7 separate regions of the Homo sapiens genome follow, and all the other regions are linked to region 5. The links come from fine-mapping of genetic effects on plasma protein levels. A gene starts in region 5. Each other region holds a variant in brackets. All regions are shown on one strand. Distances are from middle to middle.

The links. PIP is the posterior inclusion probability: the model's chance that the variant is causal. Protein levels are from antibody-based Olink assays in UK Biobank. Linkage for the fine-mapping came from a reference panel and not from the study's own genotypes, which makes the PIPs less certain.
Region 1: its variant is fine-mapped to the plasma level of the MFAP5 protein (UK Biobank, PIP above 0.99).
Region 2: its variant is fine-mapped to the plasma level of the MFAP5 protein (UK Biobank, PIP above 0.99).
Region 3: its variant is fine-mapped to the plasma level of the MFAP5 protein (UK Biobank, PIP above 0.99).
Region 4: its variant is fine-mapped to the plasma level of the MFAP5 protein (UK Biobank, PIP above 0.99).
Region 6: its variant is fine-mapped to the plasma level of the MFAP5 protein (UK Biobank, PIP above 0.99).
Region 7: its variant is fine-mapped to the plasma level of the MFAP5 protein (UK Biobank, PIP above 0.99).

The regions. Positions count from the first base shown.
Region 1 is chr12:8,644,287-8,648,286 of GRCh38, reverse strand. MFAP5 (microfibril associated protein 5) reads left to right here. Exons shown (of 10, transcript NM_003480.4): 10 at 84-2,344. The coding sequence ends at 196. Among named protein-coding and RNA genes, the nearest start is that of MFAP5, 17 kb to the left of the region's middle. RefSeq lists enhancers at 1-410, 3,345-3,404, 3,046-3,568. The variant T/C (reference allele first, on the strand shown) is at 317.
Region 2 is chr12:8,955,245-8,959,325 of GRCh38, reverse strand. It overlaps a transcript of KLRG1 not described here. Among named protein-coding and RNA genes, the nearest start is that of M6PR, 7.6 kb to the right of the region's middle. RefSeq lists an enhancer at 2,298-3,497. The variant T/C (reference allele first, on the strand shown) is at 2,515.
Region 3 is chr12:9,668,289-9,672,361 of GRCh38, reverse strand. It overlaps CLEC2D (C-type lectin domain family 2 member D), which reads right to left and starts at 2,649. Exons shown (of 5, transcript NM_013269.6): 1 at 2,567-2,649. The coding sequence starts at 2,627. The variant T/A (reference allele first, on the strand shown) is at 2,489.
Region 4 is chr12:8,983,375-8,987,455 of GRCh38, reverse strand. It overlaps a transcript of KLRG1 not described here. Among named protein-coding and RNA genes, the nearest start is that of KLRG1, 4.1 kb to the left of the region's middle. The variant T/C (reference allele first, on the strand shown) is at 1,659.
Region 5 is chr12:8,660,388-8,664,468 of GRCh38, reverse strand. It overlaps MFAP5 (microfibril associated protein 5), which reads left to right and starts at 1,643. Exons shown (of 10, transcript NM_003480.4): 1 at 1,643-1,842; 2 at 2,363-2,422; 3 at 3,571-3,606. The coding sequence starts at 2,365.
Region 6 is chr12:9,581,532-9,585,612 of GRCh38, reverse strand. No RefSeq gene overlaps it. Among named protein-coding and RNA genes, the nearest start is that of KLRB1, 24 kb to the left of the region's middle. The variant C/T (reference allele first, on the strand shown) is at 1,666.
Region 7 is chr12:9,625,213-9,629,293 of GRCh38, reverse strand. It overlaps the pseudogene LOC374443. Among named protein-coding and RNA genes, the nearest start is that of KLRB1, 19 kb to the right of the region's middle. The variant A/G (reference allele first, on the strand shown) is at 2,066.

The DNA.
Region 1 (4,000 bases), 16 kb after region 5:
TGAAAAGTCTTCTCTATCCCTTAAAACAAGAGCCTTTGTTATCTTCTGCATTCTCTTCCCATGATGTTCTGCTTCTCTTCTAGATGAGCTTTGCCGTCAGATGGCTGGTCTGCCCCCTAGGAGACTCCGTCGCTCCAATTACTTCCGACTTCCTCCCTGTGAAAATGTGGATTTGCAGAGACCCAATGGTCTGTGATCATTGAAAAAGAGGAAAGAAGAAAAAATGTATGGGTGAGAGGAAGGAGGATCTCCTTCTTCTCCAACCATTGACAGCTAACCCTTAGACAGTATTTCTTAAACCAATCCTTTTGCAATG[T/C]CCAGCTTTTACCCCTACTCTCTACTTTTTCACCCAAACTGATAACATTTATCTCATTTTCTAGCACTTAAAATACAAAGTCTATATTATTGCATAATTTTGCTGCTTCTCAATATCATAGACACAGTGAATAGATGATGACTATATGGCTTATATACAAACATTCTATGTACAATTTCAAGGGAGACTAAACTTTAGGCTAATAATCTTTACTATTGAATCTGTCTGATATAGATCTTAGGGTTGAAGAAGCTATCTTTGTCTATTTGGGCTAACCATAGAATTTCATTTATTTTCCTCACAATATTTTCCTAGACCAACTCCCCATCATTCACGTGTTCCTCTTTACTCTTACTTTAACTATTTTGCTGGCTTGCCCGAAAATTTGCCTGGCAAGTCTTCCTTATAAGACACATCATGGTAAGTTTTGTAGTCCTGTAAGATTCTGCAACACAGTCAAGAATTATACAATCCTACTAGCAATATATAAGGACCCAAAATGTCTTCTGCTAAGCTCAGAGGCTGGGGCTAAAGCATGAGGACTATGCCAGCTATAGAACTTGGACTCATAATTCGCTATCCAATTTTTCATGCAGTTGTCTAGTCGGGAAGTAAGGTTGGAAACTAAGTCTCATTTACTGATTCGTTTATGGGTAGTACCGGGATGAACCCACCACCACAAAGCAAATTAGACAACTTAATGTGAAATCATACCATTGGTTGACGTTTCCTTGAGTTGCTACTTCGTTCATCTTCACAACTTAACAAGTGCACGGTCGAATTATTGTGCAAGTGGCTTTTGGATATCCTGATTGGGGCCTAAGAAGGGCATTCAGACTTGAATTTTAATAGGCAGACAGAAAGTTTGCCTAATAGTTAATACGAAAGAGTGAAAGAAACACAATATTCAGACAACCCACATTCTTATCCTGGCTCTAGCAGTAACCACGTAGCCTTGGATAAGCCATTTTCCTTCATTAGGTCCTGGTTTAATTTCCTCATCTTTAAAATGAGAAGGTTAAATTTATCTTAGTACTGCTGGGCGCAGTGGCTCATGCCTGTAATCTGAGCACTTTGGGAAGCTGAGGCGGGTGGATCACTTGAGGTCAGAAATTTGAGACGAGCCTGGCCAACATGGTGAAACCCCATCTCTACTAAAAATACAAAAATTAGCTGGGCGTGGTGGCACGTGCCTGTAATCCCAGCTACTCGGGAGGCTGAGGCAGGAGAATCAATTGAACCTGGGAGGCAGAGGTTGCAGTGAGCCGAGATGGCGCCATTGCACTCCAGCCTGGGTGACAAAAGCAAAAGTCCATCTTAAGAAATATATATATATATTATATATATTCTTAGTTCTAAGATTTCCTTTAATTCTATGATTCTCTGGATTTAAATGCATTATTCATATTTCTTGAAGCTTAGATACAGTCTAATTCATAGCAACCATATCTGCTTTATCCTAGGTGAGGGTAGCAGTCCACAATGGAATAGAAGAAAATCCCATTATAACAAATGACAAATTATATATCATGAATCCTTCTGTCTGACTAACTCAATAACTTTCTATAAAAGCCAATGGAATTCAAATAGGAGCTAGGAGACAACAAGTTATATATGACAGTGGAGGTTGTATTCCTTTTATATTGCTGAGAAAACTAGTTAAATGATCAGATTCTTGCTGTTAAGAAACAATTTCGTTTAATGGGATCTGTACAACTGATTTTAAAAAAATGCTACAAAAAGCCCCAAAGCATATAATCTCTACTCCTTACAGTCTCTAGAATTAAATGTACTCATTTAGACAACATATTAAATGCATATTTTAGCCACTTTAGAGAAACCTCATAGGCACAGAGTTTCCAAGATTAATTTTAAGAATATCTTCACGAACTTGACCCTCCTACTCCACATTGCAACATTTCCATCAGACAGCATTTCAATTCCAGTATTATGTATATTGCAAATTAAACATTTTAAAATATTTTTTTCCAATTTATTTCTCAAAATAAAATGTCTTTTGTTCTGGTTCTTTTTCTCTTCTATGTTTACGAAAAAGGCCTGAATTTATGAACTTTTATTCCACTTTAAAAAATGTGTATCAGCCGGGCGTGGTGGCTCACGCCTGTAATCCCAGCACTTTTGGAGGCTGAGGTGGGCGGATCACCTGAGGTCAGGAGTTTGAGACCAGCCTGGCCAACATGATAAAACCCTGTCTCTAAGAAAGATACAAAAAAATTACCCAGGCATGGTGGCGGGTGCCTGTAATCCCAGCTACTCGGGAGGCTGAGGCAAGAGAATCGCTTGAATCAGGGAGGTGGAGGTTGCAATGAGCCAAGATCATGCCACTGCACTCCAGCCTGGGCAACAACAGTGAAATTCCGTCTCAAAAAATAAAAGAAGATTCAGAAGAAAGTTTTTACTCATTAAGGTGTTAATATATTTTTTTTCCTGGTGAGCCCAAATGACAACCTTGCTAAGCAATGGCTTTCAATGAAAAGCCATTTTTTAAACCAAAATAATGGATCTTTAATGTTAGAATTAAAGAATTTGGTAAAAATATCAGTAGATATTGAATGCCCTCCTGGTATCCTGAATAGATAGCAGCCTCATCTACCTATTCATAAAGATTCACTTTTATTTTCCCTTCTCTAATTGAGTTGATTCTACTCTGAGGCTTTTTCCATATTCCATGCTTACGATTCAAGAAAATTCTACTTTCTCCTCAAATGAACACATTCTGGAAATTTGAGTGTGTCTTCTACTCACTAAATACAGTTCTATGCACACTCAGTATTGTTTTGACTCATGGCAGAGAGTGCAAACCGCAGCTGGTTTCCCAATTTCTGAGTCTTACTTTGATGACATATACAGCAGTATATGTTGCTAGACACAAGCTCCTCCCTTCTCTGCTTCAGGGTACTTGTGGCCAAAGTTAGATGTTTAACTAACCACTTTACACCTGGTGAGAAGGCACAAACAACCTCTAAGATCCCTCTTCCTTTTGTACTGAAGCAGCTGTAACACAATGAAGAAGGAAAACAATCCTAAAAGAAGTGGGAACAAAGATGGCACCAGACCAGGGGATAGCCAGATGAGAGAGTGACAACAGGCTGACACCAGGGTTGGGGAGCCAGGAAGCTAAAAGATGGAAACTGTCAAATTCCAAATTCAAAGGGAATTTGAGAAGTGGGGAAGGGGTCCTGGGGGATCTGGAAACTTAGGGTAAAACAGAAAGACATCAGGAGCACAGTGGAGGAGAGGCAGGACTGTCCTTGTAGCTTTGTCAGCTCAGGGAGGCCTTACTTAATAAAGCAATACTCTGATAAAAACGGAAGCCCTTGTATCTTTGAGCATTTTCACCAACCAAACATCAGGGAAAGTGACTTGTTAAGACTGCGGTAAGGAGAGGAACAGGTGGCCACAGTTTTGTTTTCTTTCTTTCTTTCTTTCTTTCTTTTTTTCTCTAAAAACCAGTCAAGCAGACCCAGAAGCAGCAGTCAGACGACAAATTCTGGGCAGAACCCAAGATGGAAAAAGCAAATGTTTATATAAATAGAGGTGCAGAGCCCACAGCTTCCTGTTGACAAATCGAACTTCACTTTACCTCAAACCCTCATTTTTTTTTAATAGCTGATAATGATTTGGTGTTATTTTTCAACTTGTCCAATCACTTAGAGTAAGGTT
Region 2 (4,081 bases), 290 kb before region 5:
CAGTTCTTCAGGTTTTACAATAGTAATATTACCTACAGGAGAAGTTGGAGAAGCTCTAAATCTTGCGACCCCAGATACAAGACTCTGGGGCAGTAAGCAACTTATATAACAAAAACAAGCTAAGTAATGGCGGGTCATTGTTCAACTATGTCTATTCTTCAGCAAAGTTCAAGCCCCTACCATAATTTTAACTTTGTTTTATGAATGTGGTTTTAACTGTAAACTAAATTCCTCTTATAGTTATCTTGGCCCCCACATTAGAATGGACAAAAAAACAATTTAACTTGAGAGGTTGGAAGCAAGATGGAGTCAACCATATTAGACTTCTCTCATTACTTATAGTTCTGCAAAGGTGGTTTCATATTCATGAATTATAAGACTCAACATTAAGATGTCAATTTTCCCCAAATTTATCTACAGATTCATATCAACCCCAATTGTAACCCCAGCAGGATTTTTTTTTTTTTTTGATACAGGGTATCACTCTGTTGTCCAGGCTGGAGTGCAGTGGTGCAACCACGGCTCTCTGAAGCCTTGACCTCCTGGGCTCAAGCGATCCTCCCACTTTAGCCTCCCAAGTAGCTGGGACCATAGGCACAAGCCACCACGCTCAGCTAATTCTTAGGTTTTTTTGTAGAGACAGAGTCTCACCATGTTGCCCAAGCTGGTTTGAAATCCTGAGCCCAAGTGATCCTCCCATCTCAGCCTCCCAAAGTGCTGAGATTACACACGTGAGCCACTATGCCTTGCCCCAGCAGGATTTTTTAACAGAAATTGACAGGTTGCTTTTAAAGTGTATATGGAAATGCAAAGGACCTAGAATAGCCAAAACAATCTTGAAAAGAGAAGAAAGACTTATAATACCTTTCTTCAAGACTTAATATAAAACTAGAAGAATCAGGAGTGTGTTATTAGCTTAATAATAAAGATATCAACTAAACAGAATTAAGTCCAGAAACAGAACTACATTTATACAATCAACTGATTCTCAACAAAGCTCTGACGCAATTAAGAGAGGAAAAATAGTCAAACAATGTTATAGGAAGTCATTATATATCCATATGGGGAAAAAAAGGAACCTCAGTGCTACCTCAACTATACACAAAAATTAACTCAAAATAGATCACAGACCGGGCACACTGGTTCATGCTTGTAATCCCAACACTTTGGGAGGCCATGTTGGGAGAAGAGCTTGAGGCCAGGAGTTTGAGACCAGCCTGGGTACTATAGCAAGAGCCTGTCTCTAAAAAAATTTAAAAATAAATTACAGACATAAACATAAAACTATAAGGCTTCTTAGAAGAAAATACAGATAGAACCCAAACGCCCATCAAAAGGGAATGAATAAGATGAGAAATACGATAGTTCCCCACCCTTATCTGCAGGTGTGCTTTCTACAATTTCAGTTACCAGTAGTCAACCGAGGTCTGAAAATATCAGATGAAAAATTCCAGAAATAAACTACTCATAAGTTTTACATTGCATGCTGTTCTGAGTACTGTGATAAAATCTTGCACTGTCCTGCTCCATCCCACCTGGGACATAAATCACCCCTTCATCCAGTGGAAACACGCTGGGGACACTCCCTGCCCGTTAGTGTCCCTCTCAGTTATCAGATTGACTGCCACAGTACTGCAGTGCAAGTAACTCTTATTTTACTTAATAATGGCCACAAAGCGCAAGAGTAGTAATGCTGGCTATGCAGACATGCCAAAGAGAAGTGTAAAGTGCTTCCTTTAAATAAAAAGGTGAAGGTTCTTGACTTACTAAAAAAAAACAAAAAACAAAAAAACAAAACAAAACAAACAAACAAACAAAAAACAAAACAAGTATTCCGAGGTTGCTAACATCTATGGTAAGAATAAATCCTCTATCTGTTAAATTGTGAAGAAGGGAAAAGAATGTGTGCTAGTTTTGCTGTTGCAACTCAAACTGCAGAAGTTACTGCCATGGGCCACGGTAAGTGCTTCGTTAAGACAGAAAAGGCATTAAATTTGTGGGTGGAAGATATGAACAGAAACATATTCTCATTGAAGGCAACTGGGTTAGATGCTGTCTACAGCAGGGGCCTTGGAACATGTCCCCTGAGGAGAAGGGAGGGCTACTGTATTCATAAAATGTAATACTACCCCACCAAAACACAAAACAAAACCTACTACTGATACATACAAGTTCACAGATATTACAGTGAAAGAAATCAAACAAATGCAAAAGGAACATGCTATTGACACAGGATTTTTTGGTGGTGTTCCACAGCCAGAGACCTCCACGGCCGGGGGGGCCCTGCTCAAGATCAAGATTCACTCGTGACCACTGGGCTGGCTCCACCCACTGGGCTTGGCAGGCTGTGCTTGGCTCTTGGCTAGCGGTACTGGCCCAGATCTCACACCCACCAAGGGCAAGCCAGGTATGCTAGCTGCTACAGCAGGGCATCACCTCCAGGCACCAGCTTCATGTGAAGCTGTGGCTGGATCAGGTATACTGCAAGCAGCTTCTGCCTTGGGCACTGGCATA[T/C]GAACGAAGGGAACGCAGTGGCGTCCAAAAAACTCAAAAGACACCAGCAACTGCGGAACTTCAAAGGTCAGGTGCAGTGGCTCATGCCGGTAATCCCCACACTTTGGGAGCCTGAGGTGGGAGAATTACGTGAGGTCAGGAGTTCGAGACCAGCCGGGCCAACGTGGCGAAACCCCATCTCTACTAAAAATACAACAAATTAGCCGGAAGTCGTGGCAGGCACCTGTAATCTCAGTTACTCAGGAGGCTGAGGCAGGAGAATCACTTGAACCTGGGAGGCAGTAAGTTGCAGTGAGCCAAGATCACACCACTGCACTCCAGTCTGGGTGATAGAGTGAGACTCTGTCTCAAAAGAAAAAGAAAAAAAAATGCGGTGGGGGGTGTTACAGCATGTTACAGCTCTGGCTTGGGGAATCCCGAGGTCTGCACCCCGAAGAGTCTCAGCTCGTTTGTGTTACAGTTCATTCATTCCTGCTGTCCACAAGCTTTGCCGAACGGGGGCATGTCCCAACTTGTTCAGTCCCACCAGCCCACGGCTCCTGGGCTGGCCTGGCGCCACCACCACTTCCCATAACGTGGGGTGGCCGCCTGGTGCCAGGAGAGGGCAGGAGGGCTACAGCCTTTCACCTGCTGTTCTTTTGCACCCGCTGTTCGGCAGGTCCCGAGTTCTTGTCCTGCGTCCAAGAAGAATGAGGTTACACTGACAATTGCAGAGTAACCAAGGCAGAGAGGACGTTTATTCAGCAACAGAACAGCTCCCAGCAGAGAGGGGACCCAAAGGTGGTAGTCCCACTGTGTAGCTGAGTCCGGGAGTTTTTATGGGCTCAGAATGGGGGAGTGTGTGCTGATTGGTCCATAGGCAGCCTGGAAAAAGCACCATTTGATTGGCTAAAAGGCATTGCGGGAGTTCTCACTTGGGTCTTAGATTCTACCCAGAACTGGCAGGTGAGTTTTCAGGCTTCCGGCGGTCTTTGACTCGAAGGTTGGTTTTCACCAGGGACCCGCCCGTATCTACCTAGGAATTTGTCTGCTTCCCACCACTATCAGTATCTGTCCATTTATACTAAGTTCTAAAATAGGCAAAATTAATCTATAATTTAAAAAAAAGAAAAATTCAAAAGACCAGGCTTGATGGCTCATGCCTGTAATCTCAGCACTTCGGGAGGCTGAGGTGGAAAGATTACTCAAACCCAGGAATTCAAGACCAGCTCGGGGAAAATAAGGAAACCTCATCTCTACAAAAAATAAAAAAAAATTATCCTAGCATGGTAGCACACTCCTGTGGTCCCACCTACTCCACAGGCTAGCTGGGAGGATCATTTGAGCCTGGGAGGTCGAAGCTGCAGTGAGCCATGTTTGCACCATCGCACTCCAGCCTGAGTGATAGAGACTCTATCTCAAAAAAAAAAAAAAAAAAAAAAAAAAAAAAAAAAAAATCAGAGCAATAGTTGCCTCTAGGACTAGGAGAAGATGACTGGATAGGAGCATGAGGAAATTTTCTTGGATGATGAAAATCTTCTAAATTTTTTGATTACAGATAACAGTTATGATGCATTTGTCAAAATAA
Region 3 (4,073 bases), 1.0 Mb before region 5:
TGCTATGGTTTGAATGTGTCTCCAAAGTTCATGTGTTAGATACTTAATCCCCAATGCAATAGTGTTGAGAGGCAGGTCCTTTAAGAGGTAATCAGGTCATAATGTCCTTATAATGGGAGTGGGTTTACTATCACGAAAGTGGATTTGTTATAAAAGCAAGTTTGGTGCCTCTTGCTCTCTCTCTTTCTTATGCATGTGCTCTCTTGCCCTTCCAAATTTTGCCATGGGATGATGGAGCAAGATGTGTTTCTCAGTCTTGAACTTTCCAGCCTCCAGAACTATGAGCCAATAGATTTTGTTCATTATAAATTACCCAGTCTTGGGTATTCTGTAATAGCAGCACAAAACAGACTAAGACAGAGTCTATATATGTGTGGCAACAAGGAGAAAATGAAAAAAAAAACTACCTTTCTCACAATTTTGCTGTGATCCCAAAATGGCTCTAAAAATATGGTCTTTAAACAAAACAAAAAAGAGCAAAAGGAAAAAGGATATACTAGCAGCAGATCTTACAAGAATATCCAAATTTAAAGAGCCATCAAACCAGTGGTGAATTTAAATTTCCCTCCTCTAGTATCACTGCCCCGAACTTAATACAGCCAGAAACATGGAATTGAGCCTCTGTCAGCATAAAGAGAGGGCTCCAGGAGAAGCACTAGAGGTATGGTCTGAGGAACAGAAAAGCAAACTCCTATCTCAAATAGAGTGTGAAAATACCACGTTTATTTTTTCTCCCCCTCTTGTCTACATTCTCATGTGCCTCAAACCTCAGGCAATCTGATGATGGTAGGGGAAACTACAGCAACATGCAATAGCCAAAACCTTGAGAAAGGTTAATCCTCGGCCGGGCGCGGTGGCTCACGCCTGTAATCCCAGCAGTTTGGGAGGCCGAGGCGGGCGGATCACAAAGTCAGGAGATCGAGACCATCCTGGCTAACACGGTGAAACCCCGTCTCTACTAAAAATACAAAAAAGTAGCCGGGCGTGGTGGCGGGCGCCTGTAGTCCCAGCTACTCAGGAGGCTGAGGCAGAATGGCGTGAACCCAGGAGGCGGGGCTTGCAGTGAGCCGAGATCGCGCCACTGCACTCCAGCCTGGGGGACAGAGTGAGACTCCACCTCAAAAAAAGAAAAGAAATCTAAAGTCAATCCTTTCCATTCAGTTGAGCTGTAGCTCCATGAGAGTGGGGCCAAACCTCTTGCTTTTTTTTTCTTCTTTCTCACTGTCCGTCTGCCACATGAGCTTAAAGATGCAGCTATAATTGCAGAAGTATATGGTTCATCAGAATAAAAGGAGGCCCGCATTTCTAGCTGGAGGATGGAAAGGAGAAGCCCCTGGGAACCTGAAAGTACGGGTCAGATGGTGAAGAGGAAGAAACTTTAGAAAGAGACCCATGAACATTATTCATAAACTCCTGGATTCACCTGCCCCTCAACTTATGCATGCCTAGATATGGTTCTAATTGGCACACTAAAGATGCTAAGACCTGAACTAATGAGTAGAGCATTGCACAGTTCCCAATTTCACCCCTGGTTGATGCACATGTCTGAATAGCACTACAAAGGCTTTCAGAATGGAACTGACATTGGAACCAGATCCCACAGATTGTCTTCATCTCACCAGGGTGATTGCTTGCTAAAACAATAGTATCAATATACTCCAAAATTTAAATAAGATCCAGTCTAACTAAATATTTGTTCAAAATGTTCAAATTACAATCCAAAATTACACAGTATATGAAGAACCACGAAAATGTCAACTTCCATGGGGAAAGAAAACACAAGCCAAGGAGGACATGACAGAGATGTTGGAACTATCCGACAAACAGTTTAAAGCATTTGGTATAAAATGCTCAAAATACCCAATGAATGAAGAAATAAATGAAGTCATTTAACAACATTTAGAGTTCATCTTTTTCTGCCTCTGAATTACCTTTTCTCCAAATTGATTACCTTTTAAGTTGGGAGGAGAAAACTCCAAACTTTTAAGTCCTAAGTTATAAAACCTTGATATTCCCTAACTGTGGCAAAAGTCATTTTTTTCACTTACTAAAGCATCATATAAAGCTATATATATATATATTTCCAGTGCATCCAATGTAACATAATTCCATTAGAATGCCCTACTAAGTTTCTACTCAACCTTTGTTACTTTTTTGATTTGTAAATGTCCTTTACATACTATTTTCTACCTTTTCTCTCTTAAGAGCTTCCATGATAGGTTTTCTACCTATGTAATAATGATGGTATCTTGTATCTGAGTAACACTTTAGAGTTTGTATAGATTTTTTTTTAGTGAAATTAACTGTTATTTTCAATCCTAAACTTAACCTTATCTCATTGTCTTACATCTTTCTCTCATTGTTCCCTCTCCTTAGTTGTTAGAACTGGGAATATAAATATATGCATGTTTTACACAAATTATAAGCCAATTTATGGACTCCCACATTCCATCTCTTATCCTTGAAAACTTTTTACTAGATCAGCACC[T/A]TTCCTGTGTGAGCCCATCACTACCACTACCTTCCCATTCCAGTCCTCACACTTACTCTGTAGAGCCCAGCTTCTTACCTGGGTTTGCAGGCAATTCAGATGGTGTAATGTCTTTCTCCACATTGTTACTGTCATGCATTTTGCCTCCAGTTTCTATGAGTGATCTAAACCACAGTCTCTACGTTTTCAACCCCAAGAATGATTCAAAACAAAACAAAAAAAAAGCCCAACGACTAAAACGTGTAAGTGTGTAACCGCCCCAGTAACTCAAAATGTCAAGCCTTTAAGTTAAATATAGCTAGAGGAACAAATGAAGCATAAATTGTTTCAAAAATCAGCTCATCACAACAGAATAAACTGGTGTTTGTAAGAATTTTAAAAAGTTGAAGCTACTTCTCTAACAGTATTTTGGTTACGAAAGAAACTAATGTTTGATAACTTAAAATTTCTTTGACTATTAAAAATTATAATTGTATTTTGTGCGGTACAAAGCAATATTATGATAGAAAATAAGAATTTATTGAAAGGAAGGAGTTGGCTCTCAGAGGAAATGAATGTTAGGTAAGTAAAGACAACAGCAATTTTAATCTCAAATTAAAATTCATTCCCAAGAGTTTACGCTCATTCAAAAAATATCTTGTTTTCAATTTCTTCAAGATATTTTGGGAATTTGCTGCTATGGCTGCTACAACAACTTTTCAAAAATGGGCTTGAACGGTGTGCAGCTTCTGTGCTCCCTCTGGCATGATCCAGGAGCACAGAGGCTCTTTAGCAGCAAGAGCTTCTTGTCAGATGTGTTGATTTCTTGTATATAAATGCCAGTAAGGGCACCTTTTACTAAAATATAATTTATAGTAATGTGCACAAATCATAAGCATACAACTAAACACATTCATTAAAAATATAACATGTAACAAGTGCCTAGATGAAGTATATCTTAAAACCACGTAAAACAATACCAACACGCTATGTGCCCTACTCATGTCCTGCAACGCTCATTACCCCAAATACAATCTCTATCTTAACTCTGACAACATATTTTCCCTGCTTTTGAATTCTATACAGTAGCCCCCCTTACCTGTAAGAAATAAGTTCCAGATTGGACAGCTATTGCCTTTATCAAATAGAAATGAAGTTGCATTAGGACTGAGTTCCAGTTTCTGTAAGATTTTATATATCTTTTTCTTTACTATTTCATCATTTCTAGTTTGTCCTAGGACCTATGATAAAGCCTTCTAGTAATTCCATCTGAGAACCTGCTTTTTATCAAAGCTGCTTCTCTTTCTTGGAAGTTGAATTTGGTTTTGTCTCCTGAACAACATGTGATTGCCAAAAGTTCAAGTCTGTTTTTCACATAGTTCTTCCTAACCTCCTTTCCTGTGAAATTTAATAATTTGAAAATTGCTTGAGAGAAAAATTTTTCTCATTTCTTTGGCCCTCTCTCCTCTCTGGGGGTTTTGGTCCTTCAAGTGCTTTAGGAAGAGATTTTTCTCTCCCCCAAAAAAATGCCTGGTATCCACAGCCCTCTCCCCAGAATCTCAGCATCTGACCCACTGCCAAGATGCCCCTAAGAGAAGGGTGGCTC
Region 4 (4,081 bases), 320 kb before region 5:
GCAGAGTTGGTGTTTGGAGAGTGCTTCCCCTGTGGGTTGCAGACTTCTCACTATATCCTCAAGTGGCTTTTCCTCAGTGTGTGCACAAGGGAAGAAAGAGAGAGGGCTCTGGTCTCTCTTCTTACAAGAACATTAATCCTATCAGATCAGGGCCCCACCCTTGTAACCTGATTTAACCTTAATTACTTCCTTAAACACTCCATCTCCAAATACAGTCACACTGAGGATTAGGGCTTCAATATGTGAATCTGGGGGAGACAAACATTCAGTCCATAATAATACTTAACACTACTGAATTGTATGCTTTAAAATAATTAAGATCATTTTTTAAAAAAAGGAAGGTGTATTAGTCCATTCTTGCACTGCTATAAAGAAATACCTGAGGCCAAATAATTGATAAAGAAAAGAGGTTTAATTGGCTCACAGTTCTGCAAGATGTACAGGAAGCATAGTGGCATCTGCTTCTGGGCAGGCCTCAGGAAACTTAGTCATGGTGGAAGGCAAAGGGAAATGTCTTACATGGCCAGAGCAGGAGCAAGAGAGACGCGGGGAGGTGTTACACACTTTTAAACAACCAGGTCTTGTGAGGAACTCTATCAGGAGAACAGCTCTAGGGGTATGGTACTAAACCATTCATGAAAAACCATCCGCGTGATCCAATCACCTCCCACCAGGCCCCATCTCCAACACTGGAGATTACAATTCAACGTCAGATTTGGGTGGGGATGCAGATCCAAACCACATCAGAAGGCAACATAGGAATCAGGGGCTCTTTGAAGAAATGGCTAATTCTAGGGCCAGGACAGGGAAAGTACAAAATAAGCTTGGAGGATCTTCCAGTCTTTTAATGTTAAAAAATAAGCAAGTTAAAAAAAAAAAGATGGGAGCATATCAGGACACAGAAACCAACCTGGAAAAGCTCCCAATGGAACAATATGAACAACAAAATAAATGACAGTGTTGAATTATAACACAAGGGGAAAAACTATATAAATCCATACTGATTTAAATAAATAAATAGGTGAGAAGTGACAAATCTTGCTTACAGAAAATACCAAATAATATATGTAGATACTCCCCATTCAGGATGTGGAATTTAACTCTCCTCCCTTTGAGGGTAGTCAGGGATAAGAGACTCACTTCCAAAGAGTACACTATGGATAAAAGGAAATAGTAACTATTCATTAAAGAATCTTGGCAAATACCACCTCAACCACATGAACAGGGTTCACTGCGTGAACCACCAGTGATGAGTCTTGTTGATATCATGTACCCCCTAATATGATGCAATGATAAAAGCACCTAACCAGTAAGGTTTGTTCCCCAAAATCCATAACCCCAGGGTGGTATTATACATATGTATATATTGGTTTTCATCCACAGTTTCTGGCTCCTAACTCCTATGGTCCCTGTTACAGTCCTTTCTTATAATGTTGAGTGTGTCAGGCCCCAAGGGGAAGGCCTCTGGCCTTCTTCTGCCCTCCTTTCATCTGCCTCAAGGCAGGACTCTAATTTTCCCCTGCCTTTCTGATTGTGGGTCTTAAAACCTTCCCCAGAGAGGGTCCTGCCCTTTACTGGGGTGACAAGGGGAGGGGGTCAGCAGCAAGAATGCTGATGTCCTGAAGCTTCCATAAAAACCCAAGAGAACTGTGTCAGAA[T/C]GCTTCCAGATGACTGAACCTGTGGAGATTCCTGGAGAGCAGCCTTCCCAGAGAGGGCATGGAAGCTCCACACCCCTTTCCCCATACCCTGCCCTACAGTTCTCTTCATCTGTATCTTTTGTAATATACTTTATAATAAACTGATAAACATAAGGGTTTCCCTGAGTTCTGTGAGCTGCTCCAGCAAATTAACTGAACTCAAAGGGGAAGTTGTGGAAATCCCAACTTGAAGCTTATTGGTCAGATGTTCCAGAGGCCCAGACTTGTGACTGGTGTCTGTGGGTGTAGGGGGTGATCTTGCATATTGAATCCCTGAAATGTAAGATCTAACACTATCTCCAGGTAGATAATGTCGGAATTGAATTAGAGGATACCCAGTTGGTGTCTGCTAATTGGTATGTGGGGAACACCCCTACCACATTTGGTCACACAAGTCTTCTTCTGTGTTGATAATTGTGGTAGTGCTGGTGTGAAAGCAGAAGAAAAACACAGCTGAAGAAAGTTTTCCCCTACACATCCAATGTAAACATGCAAAAAAAAAATCAGATAATTCTAAATTGAGTGGTACTCTACTAAATATCTGACCAATACTCTTAAAATATATCAAGTTCACGAAAAAAAAAAAACACTGAGAAACTGTCATAGACCAGAGGAAAACAATAAATATAACAACTAGATGTAATGTGGTATCCTGGATTGGATCTTGGAACAGCAAAAAGAGCATTAGTGGAAAACTGGTAAAATTCAAACAATGTAGCAATATTCATTTCTTACATTTGAGAAATGTGCCATGATTTTTTAAGATGCTAACATTAGGGGAAATGGGGTGAAAGGTATAAAGAAATGTTCTGTGCTATCTTAAAAACATTTCTGTAAATCTGAAATTATTCCCCAATAAAACTTTTCTTCAAAAAAGAGGATACATAACACAGATTAGCCATAATGCATCACATTTAATATCTAGCATACAATAAAATATTATTAGAATCCAAAGAAATAAGAATATATGGGCCATGGATCAAAGAAAAGTCAGTAAGTAGAAAAGAAACTTATGTAACATAGATGCTGGAACTAGCAAACAAGGACTTTAATATCTGCATAAATACGTTCAAAGACTTAGAAGAAAATATAGTCATAATGAATAAAAATTTGAAGAATCTCAGAGAAGTAGAAACTACCAAAAAGAATCAAGTGACTATTCCAGAACAGAACAGCATTCATAATTTTTAAAAATAACTGAATGAGGGCCAGGCACGGTGGCTCACAGCTGTAATCCAGCATTTTGGGAGGCGGGGGCAGGTGGATAATTTGAGGTCAGGAGTTCAAGACCAGCCTGGCCAACATGGTGAAACCCTGTCTCTACTAAAAACATAAAATATTAGCCTGGCCAACATGGTGAAACCCTGTCTCTACTAAAAATATAAAACATTAGCCTGGCCTGGCGGCACATGCCTATAGTCCCAGCTGCTCAGGAGGCTGAGGCAGGAGAATCACTTGAACCCAGGAGGCAGAGGTTGCAGTGAACTGAGATTGCACTACGGCACTCCAGCCTAGGTGACAGAGCGAGACTCCATCTCAATAATAATAATAATAATAGCTGAATGAGATTAATAGCAAATAGAAGAGGGCAGATAAAAAGGTCAGTAAACATGAAGACAGATTGCTAAAAATAATCCAATATGAAGAATAGAGGGAAAAAATGGGAGAAAAAAATGAACAGAACCTCAGTGACCTATGAACAATGCCAAATAGTATAACAAAAGTGAAACTGTAGTCCCCCAAAATAAAGGGGACATATAATGAAATCGGAAAGGAATTTGAAAAAGTAATGATCAAATATTCCCCAAATTTGGGATACAACCTACAGGTATAAGAAACTCACTGAATCCGCATCAAGATAAACAGAAGGAAAATCACTCCTAAGAACATAATCTAAAACTAATAAAAACCAAAGATAAAAAGAAAATACTGAAAACAGCCAGAGGAAAATAAATAACACATTAATAATGGGAAACAACACATGAATGATAGCTAAATTCTCAACAGAAACAAAAAAGGAGAAAAGCAATGAGATGTCATCTTTAAAATGGTAAAATGGGCCAGGCACGGCGGTTCACGGCTGTAATCCCACCACTTTAGGAGACCAAGGCACATGGATCACCTGAGCTCACCAGTTCGAGACCAGCCTGGCCAACATGGTGAAACCCCGTCTCTACTAAAAATACAAAAATTAGCTAGGTGTGGTGGCAGGCGCCTGTAATCTCAGGTACTCTGGAGGCTGAAGCAGGAGAATCGCTTGAACCCAGGAGGCCGAGGTTGCAGTGAGCTGAGATTGCACCATTACACTCCAGCCTGGGCAACAAGAGCGAAACTCTGTCTCAAAAAAAAAAAAAAAAAAAAAAGGTAAAATGGTAAGACTGCCA
Region 5 (4,081 bases):
GGCAGGAAGATCAGGAAGAGCTGGGCGTAGCACTCAGCTTGTTCTGCGGACTGACCAGATTCCATGTATCTTAGAGATGTAGCACTTACAGCTCCCTCGGAGGTCCCAGAGGTGCTTACAAAGTGCGATTTGCTTATTTCTGTGTCCACTGCTCTTTTTTCCTCTCAACTAGACTCCTTCCTTCCTTCTTTCCTTCTTTCCTTCCTTCCATCATACCCCCTTTTATTTTCTTCTAGTATGTAATTTATTAATACTATCTGCTCTCTGTCTACCTGTACTCTTCTCTAATTTATTTCATCAGGGAGATATATAATGTAGACTAAAGGGGAGCCAACAGGAAACCTGAAACTTACATATTTCTATGGCATACAAGGTCCACCATTCCTCAGACTTGAGTTTCTGTAATTCAAGTTTGCTCTTGAATCCAAAGCGGGAATGTTTTAGTGGTTGAACCACTAGAGTCTCTGTGAATAAGAAGAAATACAAAGCCTTTAAAATTCCTGAATCAAGGCTGAGCAACATAGCAAAATCCTGTCTCTACAAAAAAATACATCTAAATTCGCCTGGCATAGTGGCATGCACCTGTAGTCCCAGCGACTTAGGAGGCTGAGGCAGGAGGATCACTTGAGCCCAGGTCAAGCCTGCAGTGAACTGTGATCATGCCACTGTACTCCAGCCTGGGTGACAGAGCAAGACCCTATCTTAAAAAAAAGAAAAAATCCTGGATCAGAGAAAGTGTTATCTACACATTATATGATCTAAGGAAAAATATTGGTAGAAAATGAGGCAAGCATAATAACCTTGCCTTTCAATTTTCTTTGGGCATCTGATTGCATTTTATCCTTAAGAGCCCAGAAACCCAGATTCTTAGTTAAGCTCAAACAAAGCCAAAAGACAAAGTAAGGCTGGCACCCCTTTCACAGAGCTTCTCTACATTTGAAAATGATTTGGAGAGTTCTGAAAAGTTCCTCAACTTTTTATAACCCTAAGGTAGCCAGCCTTCCTCTTGGACAAAACTCATAAGGTATCTGTGTTCGCTTGGTTGTGAGAATACATAGGATATTCCAAGGGGAAAAAAAACAAGAAGAGTCTAAATGTGTAGGTCAAGAAAGAGGCAGAGATGAAAAAGAAATACAGGAATAAAAAGAAATTTGTTAGTGCTGAAGAGACGAATATTGAAAAAGAAAGTGAGAAAGAAGGATGAAGGAATGATTCAAATATGGAATATAAGGAGGCTGAGGCAGGATAATTGCTTGAACTCAGGAGGCGGAGGTTGCAGTGAGCCAAGATCACATCATTGCACTCCAGCCTGGGTGACAGGAGCAAAACTCTGTCTTAAAAAAAAAAAACAAAAAACAAAGAAGAAGAAGATAGCCAGAGAGAGAGAAACAGCATCTATAATGTGCATTAAAACACACCAAGGAGGAGACGGAACTTTTCGGTAAGAAAGAACCCAAGGAACAAAGGGGAGCTGGGACCAGATCGTGAGAGGAGGGAAAATAGGCTAATGGAAGAAAGGCAATACATGAGCTGGGGCCAACACTTCCAGGGAGCAGCAAGAGCTCTCACCAGTGTAGTCATAACATTTGGAATGAGGGTGTGAGCAACTGCAAATTCCCATCTCCCTTCTCATTCCAGCCTCATTGTAACACACATTCTACGCCTAGCCTGGCTTTCTTGCTCTCCCTCATCTCATTGTTTCAGCGGAGGCCAAATCTGAAGTCCTTTCCAGGGAGTGGCTCTGTTCATCTTATTCGCCAGCCAAAGTAGGAACAGCGTAAGAGGAGAGAGACACATTCAGCAGCCAAAGGACTCGGTGGAAAGAGCAGAACACCATAGACAGTGAGTTATTTGATTACCTGAAACCCTAAAGAGACAGAGGGAATGTGTGTATGTCTGTGTGTGTGTGAAAGGGCTGGAGGGGGCAATGGGGAATGTCACTGAACTTAGTCTTGAGCAGACCTCCCAAATAACCGTGGAATTCTGATGAAGGAGACGCCAAGATGAGCAGATGATATGAAAAAGTCACGCATATGAGAAAGGAAGATTCCACATCAGGGGTGAAAGAGGCCAAAGGGTAGGGCCAAGTACGGACCATGTAGAATGTAAAATTTCCTCTGACTTGGTAGCAGAGAATAATAAAAGCAAGAATAATGGTAAGTGACCAAGGAATAGATTTGAGGGAGAAATGAATGTTGGGTGAAAGGTAAGAAAAGAGAGAAAGGGTTTGAGTCATAAGGGAAAATGAAGAAAGTTCTGGGAAGACAAAGAGACAGGGACCTCAGAGGCATCTTTCCCTGGCACTGAAATGCTGATGTGCCTCTGAGCATCACATTCTCTGCTATGCCCACCACCCCTATAGATATGTCGCTCTTGGGACCCAAGGTGCTGCTGTTTCTTGCTGCATTCATCATCACCTCTGGTGAGTCCTTTATTCTTTGCTCCCTAAACCCTCAGCTCCTCAGCTATACACGTGTGTGGCAGGAGATGGGATGGAATGAGGTCGAAGAGGAATAGCAGTAGAGATGCTTGGTATTGAGCTCTGGAATTCCTATTAGAAGAACAGATTTTGTGTTAAGAAAAAAAGTTCAGGAATGTGACTAGACTTCAGACTAGGGGAAAGGCCTCCCAAGAATTATGAAACTAAGGTGCAACTAAGATACACACAAATGCATATTAACCACCCAAAGAGGGTCACATATGAGTAAACAAATTGCAAAGCAAAAAAGAAGCTGATATACAAATGCATACACAAACATAGAGGAGGGACTACCTAGAAAGAAACTGGACCTGGGCTGGGCATGGTGGGCTCACACCTATACTCCTAGCACTTTGGGAGACTGAGTGGAGAGGATCACTGAGACCAACCTGGGCAACATAGTGAGATGAGTTAACCTCATCTCCATTAAAAAAAAAAAGGAAAAAAGAAAAAAAGAAACTGGACCAAATGTAAATCTTGAAGAAGAACAGTGGGAATACATACACTATTACCATCATGCATGCAGGTATACTCACATGCATGCAAAAAATATATGCCATACTGACACACAAGAGAAAAGTGATCTTCACAGATTTCCCAGAATCTGGCTAGAAGACTGGCCACAGAAAGTGAACTTTAGGCTGTAAAGATGTCCTACTCTATTTTTTTCCCTCCTTCTTCCGATACAGATTGAGAAAAATAATTCTTCTGTCTTGTTCACTAGCATAGCTAGCGGGGAAGCCGTGGGGCTAGAAGGGCTGCCAGGCCTCTCAGTGGAGCTGGACTTCATTCCTGGCCAGGAATGAGGGTAAGAGGGCAGCAGGGCTTTGTTCTCAGGAACTTGTCTTTTTTTTCTTTTTACCAAACAAATGCACAGCAGTGAAGGAACTTGTCTTTCTGAAGTCTTTCTATTCCTATTGGTTTTGTTCATAGCACTAATGGTCTCAGTAATTTTATATTGAGCTATATAGGAATAAGTCACAAAGATAAAGTATAACCATTTCTCCATGATTTTCTGATTTGTCTCATAAAAGGGTTACGAGGTATAGAGCTGCAGTCACTCACATCTCTTTTCTCTTCCTTTGCTATAGACTGGATACCCCTGGGGGTCAATAGTCAACGAGGAGGTAGGTGAACCCTTGGATAGCGGCTCTGTTGGGGTTCTTATCAGGAAAATTTAGATGAACAGAGTTAAAAAATCCTTCCTGCTTATCTATCGCTGCCAAAAAAAAAAAAAAAAGAATATTTCCTACAACAAAGAGATGCATTGCCAAAGTGTGAGAAATAGGATCAACTTCACCAGTTTCCACAATCCTATTATCCCATTCATAAAAGCTTCTTGTGTGTGTGTTTTTAAACTACTGAAACACCTTCCCAAGACATCCTCTATGACCATTTCTGTTTTCATTTTTCTTTACACATCTCCTATCTTACTCAGAAAATGCTTACTAGTCCTTACAAAAAGCGTTCCTTAATTCATGTAACAGTGGAAAAATGAAAGACAGGATAAGAAGTCATCTTATACCCATAATCCCAGCACTTTGGGAGGCTGAGGCAGGAGGATCGCTTGAGCCCAGGAGTTTGAGACCAAACTGGGCAGCA
Region 6 (4,081 bases), 920 kb before region 5:
TAAATCTAGGCTCTAAAAAGCAAAATATTTTTGTAAACAATTATACCAGTCTATGCTTAAATATGAGTATGCATCTTTTAATTTGAAAAGTATACAATCATTGAAACACATTTACATTGTATCTTTCAACATTTGTAATCAACCTAAGAAGACAGCACTTTCTTCTAGATTAACCAGTTTTTAAATTTTGACTTATACTTGTTAAACAAAAGTATTCTCACAGTGGCTGTAAAATGATCAAATTTTGAATACAAACAAAGTAGATTATTTTTATTATTCTTTCCTCATTTCTTTGAATAAAACAAAGGAAAAAATATGTTACTTGGGGGCCTTTCCAAGAAACCTGAAAACTTGATTGTACATAAAAAGACTTCACAACCATTCTATTCTTTCTAATTTGGGGCCTAAATTTCAGAAAGGCAAAATTGAGTATGGTCAAAAGAAACAAGATATAAACACAATACTGTGTTTTATAGATATACCACCACAAAGGCAAAGATTATCAGGAACTTTTAACATTCCCAAAGACAAGTTGTTTGTTAAAATACATCAAGAGCAAAGTTATCAGAATAGATTGCTAGAAAAAAATGGGTATCTGTTATCTGAACACAGAAAATTTGCTCATTTTACAGAAAAAAAGGACAAATCTAATTTTACTAATGTGTACTATTTATGTGAACATTTACAGTAAAGAATTTAACATGTTTCTATGCATGCGTTTTCACATATAAAGATATATATATGCAAATAGATGATAAATTTAACTAAAGCCTTAAAAATATAATAATTAACTGATAAGTATGTTAAATAGAGCAATGTCTATATGATATTGAATTTGTCATCCTAGTAAAGTATTAAGATGTCCTTAAATAACAGATACTAATTAGTATCTTGTATACATATTCATGTTTCTCTGTAAATAATGAACCAAAACTGTTCAATCATTTATATTAATTCCCAGGTTCAACCATGCTGATAATTCTTTATATAAATTTTCCTGTTAGATTGCTGGTATGATTTCTGTCTTCTAAATGGATCCTGACCAATACGAACACCAAATTAGTTTCATTACTCATTGAGCATGCCTGCATTTGGCAGTGCCAATATATTTTCTCAGGATTTGAATGGAAAGAATACACTGTATTACCGAGTTTACTCAATATTCAAAAATAATCAAAACCTACAAACCCCAAGCTTGTTTGAACAACAAATTAAATATACATGTCTTCAGGCTAAATTTTTCACTCCCACTTCAAACCAAGTATAAACTGAATTTTAACACAATACATAAGCAGGACATCTTCAACACCGCTTTGTTTAATTCTCCAGGGATTATCTAGATAACTATTATCAAGCTCTACAAAATATAATAATACTTAACCTAACCCCCTACAAACAATCTCCTGAATAGAGTCTAAAAATTTACCTACATAGATATGGTTTCTTACCTTTAAATTCTTGATAACACAAGCAGCAGTTTTCCTGGTGGGCACTGATGTGGGCAGACCTGTAACATCACAAAATAAATAGCCCTCATTCTTGACTCTCTCAAGACAGAGCTGTGGCTGTGATATCTTGGAAGAATCAGAAATCACAGAATGCAAGGTTATTTTTACGTCCTTTCTCACATTAGTATTAAGTGATTTTGGCCAAACAGCAAGTTTT[C/T]GTGAACTGATTAGTCCATCTATTTATTATCATCATGTTAATACTAAATATTTACAATCGAGAAGGTGCATTTTGGTCACTCAGTGGGTTGCAAGGTATGACCACAGTTAGGTACAACAATACATAACATAGTTCTTGCCCACTTACAATCTGTAATCTATTTCAATACAAATAGCTTATGAGAAAAAAAAGTTTAAATTACAGTTTTCTTTTCATACCCCAAAGAACCACTTTCTACTTGCAACCTGAGTTCAACCATGGGCATAGACTATTTTTTTCCTTTGCTTTTTTTTTTTAACTTTAATTTTAGGTTCAGGGGTGCATGTGCAGGTTTGTTATATAAGTAAACTCATGTCACAGGGGTTTATTGTACAGATTATTTCATCATCCAGATCTTAAGCCTGGTACTCAATAGCTGTTTTTTCTGTTCTTCTTCCTCCTCCCACACTCTACCCTTAAAGAGGCTCCAGTGTCTGTTGTTCCCTTTGTGTCCATGAGTTCTTATCATTTAGCTCCCACTTACAGGTGAGAACATGCTGTATTTGGTTTTCCGTTCCTGCGTTAGTTTCCTAAGGATAATGGCCTCCTACAAAAGACATGATCATGTTCCTACAAAAGACATGATCTCATTCTTTCTTATGGCTGCATTGTATTCCATGGTGTATATGTACCACATTTTATTTATCCCATCTGTCGTTAATGGAAATTTAGGTTAATTTCATGTCTCTGCTATTGTAAATAGTGCTGCAATGAACATTCGTGTGCATGTGTCTTTATGGTAGAATGATTTATATTCCTCTGGGAATATACCCAGTAATGAAATTGCTGGGTCGAATGGTAGCTCTGTTTTTAGCTACGTCATACTGCTTTCCACAATGGTTGAACTAATTTACATTCCTGCCAACAGTGCATAAGTGTTCCCTTTTCTCTGCAACCTCACCAGCATCTGTTAGTTTTTGACTTTTTAATAATAGACTCTTATGTTCACTAAATTCTAAGAAGCCAGAACTGGTAATGAACTCAGAGACTAATTTAACTTTTGGCAACTAACTCAACTAAGGAAAACAGGCTTGAGAGGTAAAGTAATATATAGAATCACAGAGGCATTGAAAATTTCGGAATTAGAATACAAATATTTGAATATTAGGGCAAGCCACATTACATATACAACCTAAGAAACCAACATTCTTACTGGTTAAGAAGTACAGTCCCTGAAGCCAGCCTGATGAGTTCTCATCCGGAATCTGCCACTTATTAGCTACCTGACCTTGAACAACTTAACTAATCCCTCTATGCTTCAGTTTCCTCATTTGTAAAATGGGTACAATAGCAATCATAATTACCACTTAGGACTGATAGTGAGCTTCAACTGAGGTTCACATGTAAAGCACTTAGAAGTGTCTAGAACATGGTAAGTGTCACTTTAATTATTACAGAATTTTGTTTTAGGAAACATCTTGAAAGACATCTTTCCCAACCTTTTACCACAGTCAGTAATTTTTTTTTTATTATACTTTAAGTTTTAGGGTACATGTGCACATTGTGCAGGTTAGTTACATATGTATATATCTGCCATGCTGGTGCACTGCACCCACTAACTCGTCATCTAGCATTAGGTATATCTCCCAATGCTATCCCTCCCCCCTCCCCCCACCCCACAACAGTCCCCAGAGTGTGATATTCCCCTTCCTGTGTCCATGTGATCTCATTGTTCAATTCCCACCTATGAGTGAGAATATGCGGTGTTTGGTTTTTTGTTCTTGCGATAGTTTACTGAGAATGATGTTTTCCAATTTCATCCATGTCCCTACAAAGGACATGAACTCATCATTTTTTATGGCTGCATAGTATTCCATGGTGTATATGTGCCACATTTTCTTAATCCAGTCTATCATTGTTGGACATTTGGGTTGGTTCCAAGTCTTTGCTATTGTGAATAATGCCGCAATAAACATACGTGTGCATGTGTCTTTATAGCAGCATGATTTATAGTCCTTTGGGCATATACCCAGTAATGGGATGGCTGGGTCAAACGGTATTTCCAGTTCTAGATCCCTGAGGAATTGCCACACTGACTTCCACAATGGTTGAACTAGTTTACAGTCCCAACAACAGTGTAAAAGTGTTCCTATTTCTCCACATCCTCTCCAGCACCTGTTGTTTCCTGACTTTTTAATGATTACCATTCTAACTGGTGTGAGATGGTATCTCATTGTGGTTTTGATTTGCATTTCTCTGATGGCCAGTGATGATGAGCATTTTTTCATGTGTTTTTTGGCTGCATAAATGTCTTCTTTTGAGAAGTGTCTGTTCATGTCCTTCGCCCACTTTTTGATGGGGTTGTTTTTTTCTTGTAAATTTGTTTGAGTTCATTGTAGATTCTGGATATTAGCCCTTTGTCAGATGAGTAGGTTGT
Region 7 (4,081 bases), 960 kb before region 5:
AGTTCTGGCCAGGGCAGTCAGGCAGGAGAAAGAAATAAAGGGTATTCAATTAGGAAAAGAGGAAGTCAAATTGTACTGGTTTGCAGATAACATGATTGTATATTTAGAAAAGCCCATTGTCTCAGCCCAAAATCTCCTTAAGCTGATAAGCAACTTCAGCAAAGTCTCAGCATACAAAATCAATGTGCAAAAATCACAAGCATTCCTATACACCAATAACAGACAAACAGAGAGCCAAATCATGATTGAACTCCCATTCAAAATTGCTTCAAAGAGAATAAAATACCCAGGAATCCAACTTACAAGGAATGTGAAGGACCTCTTCAAGGAGAACTACAAACCACTGCTCGACGAAATAAAAGAGGACGCAAACAAATGGAAGAACATTCCATGCTCAGGGATAGGAAGAATCAATATTGTGAAAATGGCCATACTGCCCAAGGTAATTTATAGATTCAATGCCATCCCCATCAAGCTACCAATGACTTTCTTCACAGAATTGGAAAAAACTACTTTAAAGTCCATATGGAACAAAGAAAGAGCCTGCATTGCCAAGTCAATCCTAACCCAAAAGAACAAAGCTGGAGGCATCACACTACCTGACTTCAAACAATACTACAAGGCAACAGTAACCAAAACAGCATGGCACTGGTACCAAAACAGAGATATGGACCAATGGAACAGAACAGAGCCCTCAGAAATAATATCACACATCTACAACCATCTGATCTTTGACAAACCTGACAAAAACAAGAAATGGTTGCCTATTTAATAAATGGTGCTGGGAAAACTGGCTAGCCATATATAGAAAGCTGAAACTGGATCCCTTCCTTACACCTTATACAAAAATTAATTCAAGATGGATTAAAGACTTAAATGTTAGACCTAAAACCATAAAATCCCTAGAAGAAAACCTAGGCAATACCATTCAGGACATAGGCATGGGCAAGGACTTCATGACTAAAACACCAAAAGCAATGGCAACAAAAGCCAAAATTGACAAATGGGATCTAATTAAACTAAAGAGCTTCTGCACAGCAAAAGAAACTACCATCAGAGTGAACAGGCAACCTACAGAATGGGAGAAAAGTTTTATAATCTACCCATCTGACAAAGGGTTAATATCCAGAATCTACAAAGAACTTAAACAAATTTACAAGAAAAAATCAAACAACCCCATCAAAAAGTGGGCAAAGGATATGAACAGACAGTTCTCAAAGGAAGACATTTATGCAGCCAACAGACACATGAAAAAATGCTCATCATCACTAGCCATCAGAGAAATGCAAATCAAAACCACAATGAGGTACCATGTCACGCCAGTTAGAATGGCGATCATTAAAAAGTCAGGAAACAACAGGTGCTGGAGAGGATGTGGAGAAATAGGAACAACTTTTACACTGTTGGTGGGACTGTAAACTAGTTCAACCATTGTGGAAGACAGTGTGGCGATTCCTCAGGGATCTAGAACTAGAATGCCATCCCATTACTCAGCATATACCCAAAGGATTATAAATCGTGCTGCTATAAAGACACATGCACACGCATGTTTATTGCGGCACTATTCACAACAGCAAAGACTTGGAACCAACCCAAATGTCCATCAATGATAGACCGGATTAAGAAAATGTGGCACATATTCACCTTGGAATACTATGCAGCCATAAAAAAGGATGAGTTCATGTCCTTTGTAGGGACATGGATGAAGCTGGAAACCATCATTCTCAGCAAACTATTGCAAGGACAGAAAATCAAACATCGCATGTGCTCACTCATAGGTTGGAATTGAACAATGAGAACACTTGGACACAGGGTGGGGAACATCATACACCGGGGCCTGTTGTGGGGTGGGGGGAGTAGGGAGGGATAGCATTAGGAGATATACCTAATGTAAATGATGAGTAAACAGGTGCAGCACACCAACATGGCACATGTATACATATGTAACAAAACTGCATATTGTGCGCATGTACCCTAGAACTTAAAGTATAATAAATAAGTATATAAAATTAAAAAAAAAAAGAGCTTACGTGTCTCCAAGACTGACATTCTCCCATTACAGGTT[A/G]AAAAAACAGCAAAATCTGAGATTTCCTAAAAGTCACTTCCTATTATTGGAGCAGAATTATACCAGGTGCTCAAATTACTTGACAGTGGAAACAGTCTTCTGGCTTTGAACTCAGAAGACAGGAAGTGTTTATCCATCGAAGAACATTTTCATTATGTGTCTATCATGAGAGCACACACTTATTTCTTAAAGATCACCGATAATTATGAAGTGAGATGTAAGTGTGTGTGAGTTTCACAATCCACTCTTTAGTGATTCAGTGAAAATGTTCTTAACTATATGACTATTTGATAACTAACAGTCATTTTACTGGTACTAGGGTATTTGGTTCTGCCATACATCTTATCTAAATTTTTAGGATGCACAGAGTCTGCCACAATTATGGAAGTGTCTCCTGGGTCATTTGCATTGAACAATTCAATATATTTATAGCATTATTCTCAAGCTTTAGTATATAATGCTTTAGTGCATATAAAGATCTCAAACTATAGTATATATAAGAATAACTTGAAAACTTGTTAATAATGCAGATTCTTGCCACATAAACCCCTTTTTCTTCCCAAAGTACAGTTAGCTAGAATGGAGAATGTGCTAAAAATTATTTCAGGTGGTTCATGGACCACACTTAAAGAAACATTCATCAAGTAAATGAAAAGTGTTGGAATATCTTAGAAAGGTCAATAGAGTGACTAGAAGTCTGATGATGTAATTAGGGGATTAAAATTGTGGTTTAGTGCACTCAAGTATAACTTCAAGTTCTGAAGCATGACTGTGACTACTAGGAATCTACAATGGCCATACCAAAAACAACTGATTTGAGGTAAGCCATTCTCTTCAAACAGATGCTTGCAAAAGCCTATAAGGTGCAAAAGTATAAACTAGTTAGAAATATCAACCAAAGAAGAGGCTTCACTTGTCCATACATGGCATGAAACATATTGATTGATCATTTTGCTTGTTACAGAGTATGAAGAGCAACAACCAATCACCTGCGCAATTTTCTTCTATCACAACAGATTCTTGTTATACAATTTTTAATGTGTGTATATACTGTATATACATATGTAATATATAATATATTATTACAATGTGCCTATAAACATATATGTTCTATCTCTCTCTATATATATACACATACATAAAACCCTCATGAAAATTCAGACCTATAATTTTTTTCTATTTATGCTAGTGAATCCATTTGATGATCTAATTATGCAAATTACACTTTACAGCAAAGCATATCAGAATTTATGAATATCTTATCATGAGAAAATATAAATAGAGAGAGAATTGTCAAAACACCCACACACATACACACACAATATAATATGAAAGCTAAAAAATTCAAAGAATTAATGAGTATATGTGATCCTAAGATTTATAATGTAGTAATAGTAGAGGTAATAATTGAGCAGCTCGAGGAACAATAAAGACAAGTTTTTGACTAGATTACCTATTTTTGACATTGAACTTTGCCAGGTCAGCAGTGGGCACTGGGGTGGGTGGACAGGAAAATACAGTAAAATAAAAACAATGTAACTGTTGAAAATGAAGAGCCACAATAGAGCCCAGAAGGTGGCCACAAAAAGAAGTGATTAAGAGGATAATTTTGTGCAAGAAGGTAAAGATACAAAAGTCAGCAAGTGTTAATCATGAGCTAAGAGAATCTACTTTAGGCTTAAAAATGAAAAAAGGAAGGGATGACATTAGCAAGAGAGCAGAATAGGAAATTATGGGACTCTCTTCCCCACAGGCCCATTGCTGTGGCAACTTTAGAGACTACTGGAGAAGCTGAAGCACCAGCCCATTATAAAACCAAGAAAGGATTCCCCCCCAGAAAAAGGATAGAAAAAATTTGTGACATTCGACACGCCCATTCATGTCCCTCCTTTATGCAATATACTGTGAAGCAACTGGGAGGAACCACCCCATACAGCGGATTCTCTCTCCTGATGAAAACAAAAAAGTGGACCATGCATCTAATGCTCTGGCTTGTCTGAGGGCTGCCTGAGGAAC